Linked DNA regions of Homo sapiens: region 1 is linked to region 2. Evidence: fine-mapped expression QTL. A gene starts in region 2. The other region holds a variant in brackets. All regions are shown on one strand. Distances are from middle to middle. Region 1 holds the start of LOC124903967 (a long non-coding RNA gene). Region 2 holds the start of MYO18A (myosin XVIIIA).

Region 1 (5,363 bases), 41 kb before region 2:
ACTTGCCCATTCTGATTCCCAGGGACATGGTACAAACAAGGGAGGTATAATCTCTAAACCTGCTCACAATAAATACATAGTGAACTCAATGCCTGGGTTTGCAGGGAGGGCAAGGACACTGAAATTGCTTAGTAGCTCTTCGTGAACAATAGCCACAAAATGCATCATCCTCTGGCCTACCCATTCCATCTTCAGGAATGTATGTCCAGTGAGCTGACTTAAAGAAAGAAAAAGAAAAAAAACGCAAAGATTTTTATAGATGCACTCTATATAACAGCTCCAAATTGGAAAGAGCCCAAATGCCTAGAATTAAGAAATGGTTAGGTACAACCCGTTGTTGTATTGCCATTTAAACTGACAAATGTGTGGACAATGTAACCATATGGAAAGCTCCATATAAAATGACATCAATCAAAAAAACTGGAACCCAAATAGTATACAAACAGTGATCATAATAATCTTGTAAACTGTGTGAATTAGACACAACATGAACACCTGGTATTTATTTTGGTATGTATTTGTTACTTACTGCTTATTTTTATTGTGAAGATGGCTAAATAGTCAAAAAAAAAGCAAAGGAGATAATAGCTAGAAGCATTTGTTCTCAAAGAGGAGAAATCCAAGAAATGTACTGAGGGACTGTCAAGCCTCAGCCCCAGGAGGCTTCTGACACTCTGGGAGCAGCTGGGGTTTACCCTCCACCATGCCAGCAGAGCCTACCCGCCCTTAACCTGCACTCTCTGGGCCCCTCACAGGAGGGAATGGGGGCACAAATGCTCCTGGGAGAATAATGCCACGCCTCAGGCAGCCCCTCAGGCCTGGAATGCCTGGCCTGGACAAATGCTTTGAGGCCCAAGCATCCACACCAGACATCTGCACACTGCAAGCCCCCGAGAGCAGCAGGTAACTCTCAAGAGAGTGCCCAAAGGAAGCTGAGACGTAGCTGGTGGCCGAGGTCACTTTCCCGCCTCGCCGCTTCTGACAGCACTCACACACCGGAGGCTTCTCCTTCTGAGGACCAAGAGGCAGGGCATTCTCCTCTCCTCCCTCTTTCCCATTCAGAGGCACAGAGGGCAGCTCCCAGGAGACTTCTTCCTCCCAGTCCCAACCTAGCACCAACTTATCTAGGGATTGAGGGCGAGGAAGGGTGGCAGGAACAAAGGAGAAGGGAAGAAATACTAGCATAATAGTAAAAAACGGTTAATCATTATTGAGCATTTGGTATGTGTCAGGTGCTGTGCTGAATCCCTCACATGAATCATCTCATTTGATCCTCACAACATCCCTCTGAAATAGATACTAGTGTGACTGTGTGACTGCTACTTTACAAATGAGCAAAAGGAGGCTCAGAAGGTCAGGTGACTCGCCCAAAGCCTCACAGCAGCAAGTGGCAGATCTGGGACTCACACTCAGGTCTCCTGCGAGAGCCCTCCACTGCTCACTTTAAGGGATGGAGGCACGCCCTGCCCTCCATTTCCCCTGGTTCACCTGCACTGTTGTCCTTCTACATCAGCTGCCAGAAGAGCAGCTTGGGAGGAAAGCAGGGGTTCCCAATGATGACCCGCCCCTCCACCCACCAACCTGAATATGCTTTACGTGGAACTGCTTGAGAGGAAGGGAAGCTCTCTAAGGAATGAACTGAAGGCCATGCTGCCAGACAGCGGGGGAGGGGGAGATGAGCTTGGCAGGGACAACCTGGCCCTTGCAGTCCAGCCTCCAGCCAGAGCCCTCCCCAGCCCCAGGGCGGAACAGAAAGCAGCCGGGCACCCGCCTCACTGCAGGCCAGCCCAGAGGAAGCAGGTGCACTGGAATGGCTTCCTGCCGCAACTGCAGTTGCAGAAGGGTCTTGGTTTCCTCCTCCAACGACTGAACCTGCTGGAGGCCCCCCTTCCCTGGGGATGCTCACTGCCCCTCTGGAGGGCACTTTGCTGTCTGCTTGGATATCACTGTGCATGGCCCTAAATCTGTGACCTGGTGCTAGTGGCCCGGGGGTGGCTGGGGGAGAGTACCCTAGACCAGGAAGCGCCCATCTCTCAGGGTGAGGAGCTCTCTCTGACCTCTCCCCCACCCCCGGGCATACTGCCCACACAACTCAGCCCTGGTGCCAGTTTGGGGGCTGAGGCAGGGCAGTCCTGAGCACAGAGAGATACAAGTACTCACGGGTACATCTCAGGCTCCTGATGCACCTCCGCACCAGGCCAGCCCACGTACTCTGCCAACTGCTGACACAACTGAAAACCTTACCCTTGGTGGCTGGGAGGGGTAGAGTCAGGGGAAC[G/A]GGAAGGACTGGGAGCAGCTATGTCTCTCCTCACTTTCTTTTTTAAGGAACTTACTTATCTGGAGTAATCTCTACTAAAAAAGAGACTTAGGGCCAGTCAGAGCATCCCCAACACGCCATCTGTGCCCCTTGCAAGTGTCCTATGCACAGAAATGGAGGTGGCCATGCTAAGACTACTCTTGGGGACAGCGAGAAGGGTGCTCCCTGACAACTCCAAGGACCATCCCCTCTCAAGGAGGAAGAGAGGAAAGAGCTATACCAGCAACAAAGCAGAGACAAGACTACCGAGGACCTTGGGTGCTGTGGGGCTGGGGCTTTGGAAGAAAACAGTGTTCTAAGGAATGAAGGCCAAAAAAGCACTAATGGTTGGTGGGGAAGGCGTGTCACAGCCTTGGGGGTGGATGCAACCCCAGGAAACTGAGGTTCAGAAGACAGTGCCCCTCCAAAACTCCTGAAGTCATGAGTCAGGCCCAGGATGCCCTGCTCCTAGCCACGGAGGGGTTTTGAGGCTTCCGGGGCTGAGTAACTCCCTTCTTACCAAGAAGCTCGGAGAGGAGCCCCAAGGCTGCCCCACCCCTCTCCCCACCTACTTCAGCCACATCTGGGGAAATCACAAAAAGGTCCCTCCTTTCCTAAATGAGGAAATAGCATGAGGAGCCTGGGACATTTCCGGGGTGGGGGGTCAGAGGGACACTCACCCGCATGGCCTGGCCTGGAGCAGCCCAGAGCAAGGAGACTCCGCTCTGATGCTGCTCTGGCTCCGTTAGCAGCTCAAAATAGCACAGGCTGTGGCCCCGCCCAGTTCCCGCCCTCTCCCCGGCCCCTCCCGTCCCGAGCTGCCCAGCCCTAGTTGGAGCCAGCAGCCCGGAGGACTTCGGGTATCAGGTATGCCAGGAGGGAGAGGGTGATACAGCAGTGTGTGTGGAAGGGAAGGAGAAGGCTCTTAGGGTAAAGCCATTGGGGTGGGGGGCAGGCAGTGTTAGGGGGTTAGGGCAAGGACAGGGAGGGTGAGACTTGCCTATGGACACACACCCCAGCTCCGGGACAGCTGGGCTGATATGGCTCCTAAAAATAGCAGAGGAATTTGAGACCTGCAGCCCCCGGCCCCACAGGCCAAGCTTGAGACAAGCACATGCGCACTCATGTGCATGTACACGTATACACACACACACACACACACCAGCATGCACGAACATTCAATCAACACAGTGTTCTTGAGAACACCCAAATCATAGGCCTACCCTAGCCATCTAATTACTGCGGCAGAGGCCAAGACAGCCACTAACGTCACATCCAAGACAGCACACGGGGCCCACTGCACACTGTGCCCAAACAGCAGCCGCAAAGCAGTCCTGTAAGGTCTGGCAGGAGCAGAGACCCACACGGGCAGGCCCACTTACTGCCCCACTGCCATCAGCACACAGGGGACATGCAGAGAATCAATTACACTCTCTTTGTTTACATCCCTCTCCCCTCCACAGACGCCAGGGACTGCACAGGCAGAGAGGAGGGTGGGGTGGGCCTCAGCCCTGCAGACAGAGGAAGTCATGGGTGTCTAGCCAATGAGTGATGGCTGCCTGTGAAAAGCCAGTGTTTCTTGTGAAGAGAAATCCTGGCCTGGCTCTCCAGTTAGCACCATGGGATGCCTAGACCAGGACTAGGGACCCGCTGAGACGCTGAAATGGGAGCTGGAGAACAGAATGTCAAGGGGCCAAAAGACAGGGAGAGCAAGTCTCAGAAGCCGTCAGCTCTGCAGAAAAAAGGAAACAGTCATTGCCTCCCTCTTCCTCTTTAGGAAAAAAAAAAAATGGGGTGGGGGTGGTGCTAGGAAGCCCTGATACAGAACCGCCTCCTAACCAGTCTGGCATACACCCCATGCTTCTTGCCCCTGGCCAGCTCTAAGGGCCATTGGTTCTATACATTGTCTGACTTTCTCCATGAAAAGATTGGTAAGCACTGCCAGAGAGGATGGAAACCCAGCCCTGCCTCCTACCTGCCATGCGCTGTCCAAGTCTCACTGTCATATAGTCACATACACAGACTCTTAGGACACGGCGCTTGTGTCCTGCTCTCTAGGGAGTGGGATGTCCCCCCAGGGGAAGCATCTGGCCCTTCTGAAGCACGTGCAGTGTCACAGGTCTTCACATCTTCAGTGGCTACTTAGAACAATGGTGCCAGCCTCAGCTGCTCACTGAAATCCACTGGGGAACTTGAAAAAAATACTGATGCCTGGAGCCCACCCTTTCCCTCTCAGTTTCTGACATAATTGGTCTGGGAGCAGGGGCCTGGGCACTGGGATTTTTTTGTTTTTGTTTTTTTTTGAGACGGAGTCTCGCTCTGTCGCCCAGGCTGGAGTGCAGTGGCGTGATCTCGGCTCACTGCAAGCTCCGCCTCCCGGGTTCACGCCATTCTCCTGCCTCAGCCTCCCGAGTAGCTGGGACTACAGGCGCCTGCCACCATGCCCGGCTAATTTTTTGTATTTTTAGTAGAGACGGGGTTTCACCGTGGTCTCAATCTCCTGACCTCGTGATCCGCCCGCCTTGGCCTCCCAGAGTGCTGGAATTACAGGCGTGAGCCACTGCGCCTGGCTGGACACTGGGATTTTTTATTGATAAAAGCTCCCCAGGTGATTCTCACATGCAGCCAAGGCTGAGAACTGCAAGACTCTAAGGCCAGCATAAGGCCTAGCACAGAAATGTCCATTTGTTAAATGAATGAGTGAATGAATGAATGATTTAGCTGTGTGAACACAGGCAGGTGACTTAAATTTCCCTTATCTGTAAAATGAGGATTACACCTTTACTGACTCTTACCCAACCAGTATGAGACTGGTACATAATGTATGTGAAAGGGCTTTGGTTCTCCAAGTTCTCAGGCCAGCAGCGTGGGCATCCCCTGGGGACTTGTTGGAAATGCAAATTCCAGGAACCCAACCCAGACCTGCTGAACCAAGAACTCTGGATATGGGGTGCAGCATCTGTGTTTTAACTAGGCTTCCAGGTGATGCTGAGGCACATTAAAGTCTGAGAAGCACGGCTTGAAAGGAATGATTCACAGCATACCATGGTTAGGAGTATGACCTCCA
Region 2 (5,363 bases):
TCAGAGCTACCAGGCACCAGGTCATCAACTGTTCAAAGTTCAAAGCTCCCAAAGGAAGTGACCGCCAGCCTGTGGCCCCTCCCATGCCCACCCTCCACCCCCACCTACAACCCTTCTCATTCCCCTAATCCCTCAACACAATAGCTGCCCCCAAAGCCATGGTTTTCCTGGAATTGAGGCCACAACCCCCATGTCCTCAACCCAAAATGGACAAGCACACCTCCACCCGAGGCTATATATAACCCGTCATGTCAAATCCAGAAACCAGGAGGATGTTTCCTGGAAAGACTTCATCACAAAAAAACAGAGAGGAAGCTGAGGAGGTGGGAAGCCATGGACAAAGAGCCAGTGAGGCTTGTCAGGAAGCCAGAGACCTCAGGAGAGCAACTTTCAATATCTCCAGATAGAAAGTAGCCCCTGAACTAAAAAGGGTGGGGAACATTAGGCCAGGCCTGTTGCCACAACAACAGGGCACCAACCTGCTCAAGAAAAGGGCTCCAAAGCACAAGGGAAAGGCGGCTGATTCAATGGGCTCTGTACTCACCGTCCTGCTCAGGTGATCTTGCTCTTAATCACCCAGGTGGCCTCCCCTCCCTTCCAGCACACCCCAGTGCATACACACTTCCCAGAGCTCACTTGCCACAGGGGCACTGATGAGGCCTTCTCGGCCACAGACACGCCAGGGGCTCCAAAAGACAAGACGAACCCACACTAACTAGCCCAAGTCATTGGCAGGGTGAAGCAGGGAGGGAATCCAATTCTTTAATTCGGGGTGGCCATCTGAGGGAATGAAAGCCCTAGCCAGGACAGTCCCTCTCAGGAAGCATTCCCCCAGCCCTCCCCACACAAATACAAACTATGAGGCCAGCGCCAAACACATGCCCCATTGGCAAAGTGGTCAGGCAAAATGAATACCCGCTCAAAAACAAACTGGCTGTCTTCCTCCCCATCTCCCCCACCCCCCACCTCTAGCTCATTCTGGCCGCAACCTTTCCAACTAATCAGCAAGACACATGTGCCTTGCAGTAGGGCAACTCCCCCATCTCCACCCCCAAAACAAAGCCCCAATGCCTGGCCTGTCCCTGCGGGCCTTATCGCACCCAGGAACATGACCCACACTCCTGGCCGGGTTTGGGACCAAGGAGCGCACCCCCACTAACAAGGGGCAGGGTGAGGGGGCAGCCACCCCTACCACCTCCCCTTCCCATTGGCGAAACAACTGGCATGACAGGTTAGCAGGGCGGGGCGTCGGGGCGGTCTCTCCAGAGGCCTGGGGCAGCTTGTCCGACCTTCCCACACGCACCCCACCCCTCTGCAGGGAAAGGTGAGGTGAGCATTCAGTCTCAGGGCACAGCCTGCACTCCCTAATCCCCAAAGCCTGCCACCATTCACCCTCTCATCTTCTGTCCCAAGAGGAGGGGGCCCAGGGAAGCGGGGTCTCCATTGTTTTGCCAGCTGTCTAGCAGCTGCTCCTTTGAGAGGAGCCCGCAGTCTGCCCGGCAGTGAAAGAGTGAAGGCCGCTGGGAGGGATAAAAGGGTCGGTAGAGGTGCTCCCCTTCCCCGCTGCCTTCCTCAGCGCCCCGCTCTCTCGCTCGCTCCATCGTGGGGCCTGGACGGGGGCAGGAGAAGTCCCCCCACCCTCGAGGCTGCAGCCCCCACCCCGCAGCTCCGGGCCACCTGGGCGCCTCCAAGCCCCAAATCCCCCCACACTGAAGGCCACCCTGTCCTGCCTCCCTGCGCCCCCCAGGTTGGCTGGAAGGGCCGGTGGTTCCCCCTTCCCCGCCGCTCCCGATCGGCCCCCACCCCCGGGCGTCGAGCTCCACGGCGCCGCCAGGGACGGGAGCCGGGAGTCCGGGCCGCTGCTTCCAGGGGACGGGGGAGGAGGAGGAGGAGCCGGCGGGCCCCGCCGCCCGCCCGCCCTCCCTCCCGGCCGGAGCCCGCCCCGCCGCCCCACCAAGCCGGGCCCGCCACCGAGCGGCCGCCGCCGCCGACCGGCACTCACCGGCCACCGGAGCCCGCCCGGCAGGCAGCAGAAGCGGAGACGCGGCATCCAGCAGCCTCGGCCCGGTCAGGGATGGAGCAGAGCGCAGCGCGGCGCAGCTCAGCGCCGCCCCCAGCGACCGCGCAGGCCGAGCCGAAAGGGAGCTCCCTGCTGGCGGCTGTGGGGATAAACGCCCGGCCTGCCTGGCAGCGCCAGTGCGCGCCGCCAGACGTGGGCCAGGCGGGCCGGGCGCTGCCCTGGCAGCCTCCGTCCGCTGTGGACTCCGAAGCCCCTCTCGCTGTGTCTGAGAGAGGCCCTGCCTGGAGTTTCTGTCTGCACTGGGCACTGGAGGCTGTCCGAAAAGGGTCCGAAAGGGGCTGAGTGGCACTGCCTAGGACAGGCACCAGGGTCATGATGAACGTATAGAAGAGGGGCTGTCCAAGGCAGGCACCGAACTCTGCAGGCTGTGTTCAAGGTAGTGCTGTCTAAAGGAAGCAATTAAGTCTTACTGGCCGCCTCCTCCCAAGGTGGCTCTGCAGAGGCACACACAGGGCCCTGCTGGATGGTGCCCCAGGCTCAGTCCAGACCAGGTACTGCCTGCCATGTCCGAGATGGCACTGCCAGAATGCACTCCCCAAGGTAAAAACAGACTCCCAATAGCTTGGTCTGATACAGCCCTGCCTCAAAATGGAGTGGATCAAGAGGCGTACCAGGGCCCGGGAGCCATGGCTGTAAGTGCCACTCACTCCCTAAAGGAGTTCACCAATGCCAAGATTAACACTTTCAGAAGCTCTTTGGAATGCAGTCTGTCCCTGGGTCCACTGTGTGCTGTAAATATCAAGTGAGCTGCTGTACCCACCAAGAAGACAGTTTATACTTCCTGGGAGAGGCCAAGGGACATCCAGATACCAGGCCTCCAAGATAGGTGCTATGTCTAGAGTTTGGAGAAAGAAAGAAATGGGGACACTTCCCTGGGCAGTGTCCATGCTGGAGTGGGGTGTGCCAGAATGTGGAAGAAACTGAGTGGGGTGGTGCAGGAAGAAGGGTGTAGCAGACAAATGCTGCTACCTCCCTAGACAGCCCAAACAGGAACTTCTCCAGGCAAGGGCAGCCCAACCTGACAGACCAGGGAAGGCTGGAGCAAGGAGGCTCAGAAAGCAGAGAGTTGAGTAAGAGTTAGGGAGTTCCTGAGGAATAGACCCAGGCGGGATACACATTTTGGAATAACATGCAACTCAAATTCAATTTAACAAACTGCCTGCTAAGTGCCAAGTGCAGCCCCAGGCACTTGGGGTGACACAGAAGGAGATCAGACATGGCATATCTCCAGGGAAATCACATGGGGAACAGGTAGACCTGAGCTGTGACAGTAGTAGGGTTCACCATGCTGGCATTACTTGGATGATGAGATAGGTGCTATGATGGGAGGCTTATTTGGCTTGAGGAGTGAGAAGAGCAGCTTCAAAAACATGACATTTGAGGCCAGGCATGGTGGCTTATGCCTGTAATCCCAGCACTTTGGGAGGCTGAGGTGGGCAGATCACTTGAGGCCAGCGTTCAAGACCAGCCTGGCCAACATGGCGAAACCCCATCACTACTACAAATACAAAAAATTAACCAGGCGTGGTAGTGCATGTCTATAATCCCAGCTACTTGGGAGGCTGAGGCAGGAGAATCTCTTGAACCTGGGGAGCAGAGGTTGCAGTGAGCGGAGATTACACCACTGTACTTCAGCCTGGGCGACAGAGCAAGACTCTGTCTCCAAAAAAGAAAAAAAAAAAACCCCAAAAACATGACATTTGAGCGGAACCTTGCAGGCTAAGTAGGACAACGACTATCATTAGTGTTTCCTGAGTACCTATTATATACTAGACACTATCTCTACTCCTCACAATGAACCTATGAGGGAGACATTATTATTATAGATAGGGGTTGAGTGCATGGACTCTGGAGCTGGATTGCCTGGATTCAAAATCTCAGTTCTGTAAAGTACTAGCTGTGTTACTCTGGGTGATTTTTTATAAATCACCTCTCTGTGCTTCACTTTGCTCATCCAAAAAATTGGGATAATAACAGTGACTCCCTCCCTCAAAATTTGTTTTGAAAATTATATAAGCTTAGTCTTTTCAACACATGGGGCTTTTCAACAAACTGGACATCCACATGCAAAAAAAAAAAAAGGGGGGGGTCTAGACACAGACTTTATACCCTTCACAAAAATTAACTCAGAATAGATTATATACCTAAATGTAAAACACAAAACTATAAAACTGTCTCCTAGAGGATAACATAGGAGAAAACCTAGATGACCTTGAGTATCACAATGACTCTTTAGATACAACACCAAAGGCACCATAAAAGAAAGAGCTGATAAGCTGGGCTTCATTAAAATTAAAAATGTCTGCTCTGCAAAAGACTGTCAAGAGAATGAGAAGACAAGCCACAACTGGGATAAAATATATGCAAAAGACATCTGATAAAGGATTGTTATCCAAAATACGCAGAGTTTTAAAAACTCAACAATAAGAAAATGAACCACCCAATTTAGAAATGGGCAAAAAACCTGATCAGACACCTTACCAAAGAAGATATACAGATAGCAGTAAGCAAAAGAAAAGATATTCAACACTGTATATCATTAGAGAATAGCAAATTAAAGCCAGGTGCGGTGGCTCACGCCTGTAATCCCAGCACTTTGGGAGGCTGAGGCAGGTGTGTCATGAGATCAGGAGCTCGAGACCATCCTGGCTAACATGGTGAAACCCCGTCTCTACTAAAAATATGCAAAAGACATCTGATAAAGGACTGTTATCCAAAATATGCAAAGAGTTTTAAAAACTCAACAATAAGAAAACCACCCAATTTAGAAATGGGTAAAAAACCTGATCAGACACCTTACCAAAGAAGATATACAGATAGTAGTAAGCAAAAGAAAAGATACTCAACATTGTATGTCACTAGAGAATAGCAAATTAAAGCCAGGTGCAGTGGCTCACGCCTGTAATCCCAGCACTTTGGGAGGCCGAGGCAGGTGGATCAGGAGGTCAAGAGATCCAGACCATCCTGGCCTACATGGTGAAACCCTGTCTCTACTAAAAGAACAAAAATTAGCCTGGTGTGGTGGCATGCACCTGTAGTCCCAGCTACTCAGGAGGCTGAGGCAGGAGATTCACTTGAACCCAGGAGGCAGAGGGTGCAGTGAGCCGAGATTGCACCACTGCACTCCAGCCTGGGTGACAGAGCAAGACTCCGTCTCAAAAAATAATAATAAATAAAAAATAAAAGAGAATAGCAAATTAAGATGACCATGAGGTAAAACTACTTTATTTACCTAAATTTGGATTTTGGCCAAAATCCGAAATGCCAACAACTCCAAATGCTA

What was found.
Region 1: its variant is fine-mapped to the expression of MYO18A in whole blood (TOPMed, PIP above 0.99).

What each region holds. Positions count from the first base shown.
Region 1 is chr17:29,137,364-29,142,726 of GRCh38, forward strand. The region is part of intron 2 of MYO18A (myosin XVIIIA); the gene reads right to left. It overlaps LOC124903967 (a long non-coding RNA gene), which reads left to right and starts at 3,111. Exons shown (of 3, transcript XR_007065693.1): 1 at 3,111-3,163. RefSeq lists enhancers at 356-1,339, 1,340-2,323, 2,016-2,065, 3,266-3,355, 3,506-3,555 and a silencer at 2,756-2,805. The variant G/A (reference allele first, on the strand shown) is at 2,279.
Region 2 is chr17:29,178,311-29,183,673 of GRCh38, forward strand. MYO18A (myosin XVIIIA) reads right to left here and starts at 2,088. Exons shown (of 42, transcript NM_078471.4): 1 at 2,003-2,088. RefSeq lists silencers at 1,762-1,811, 1,932-1,981, 1,947-2,167.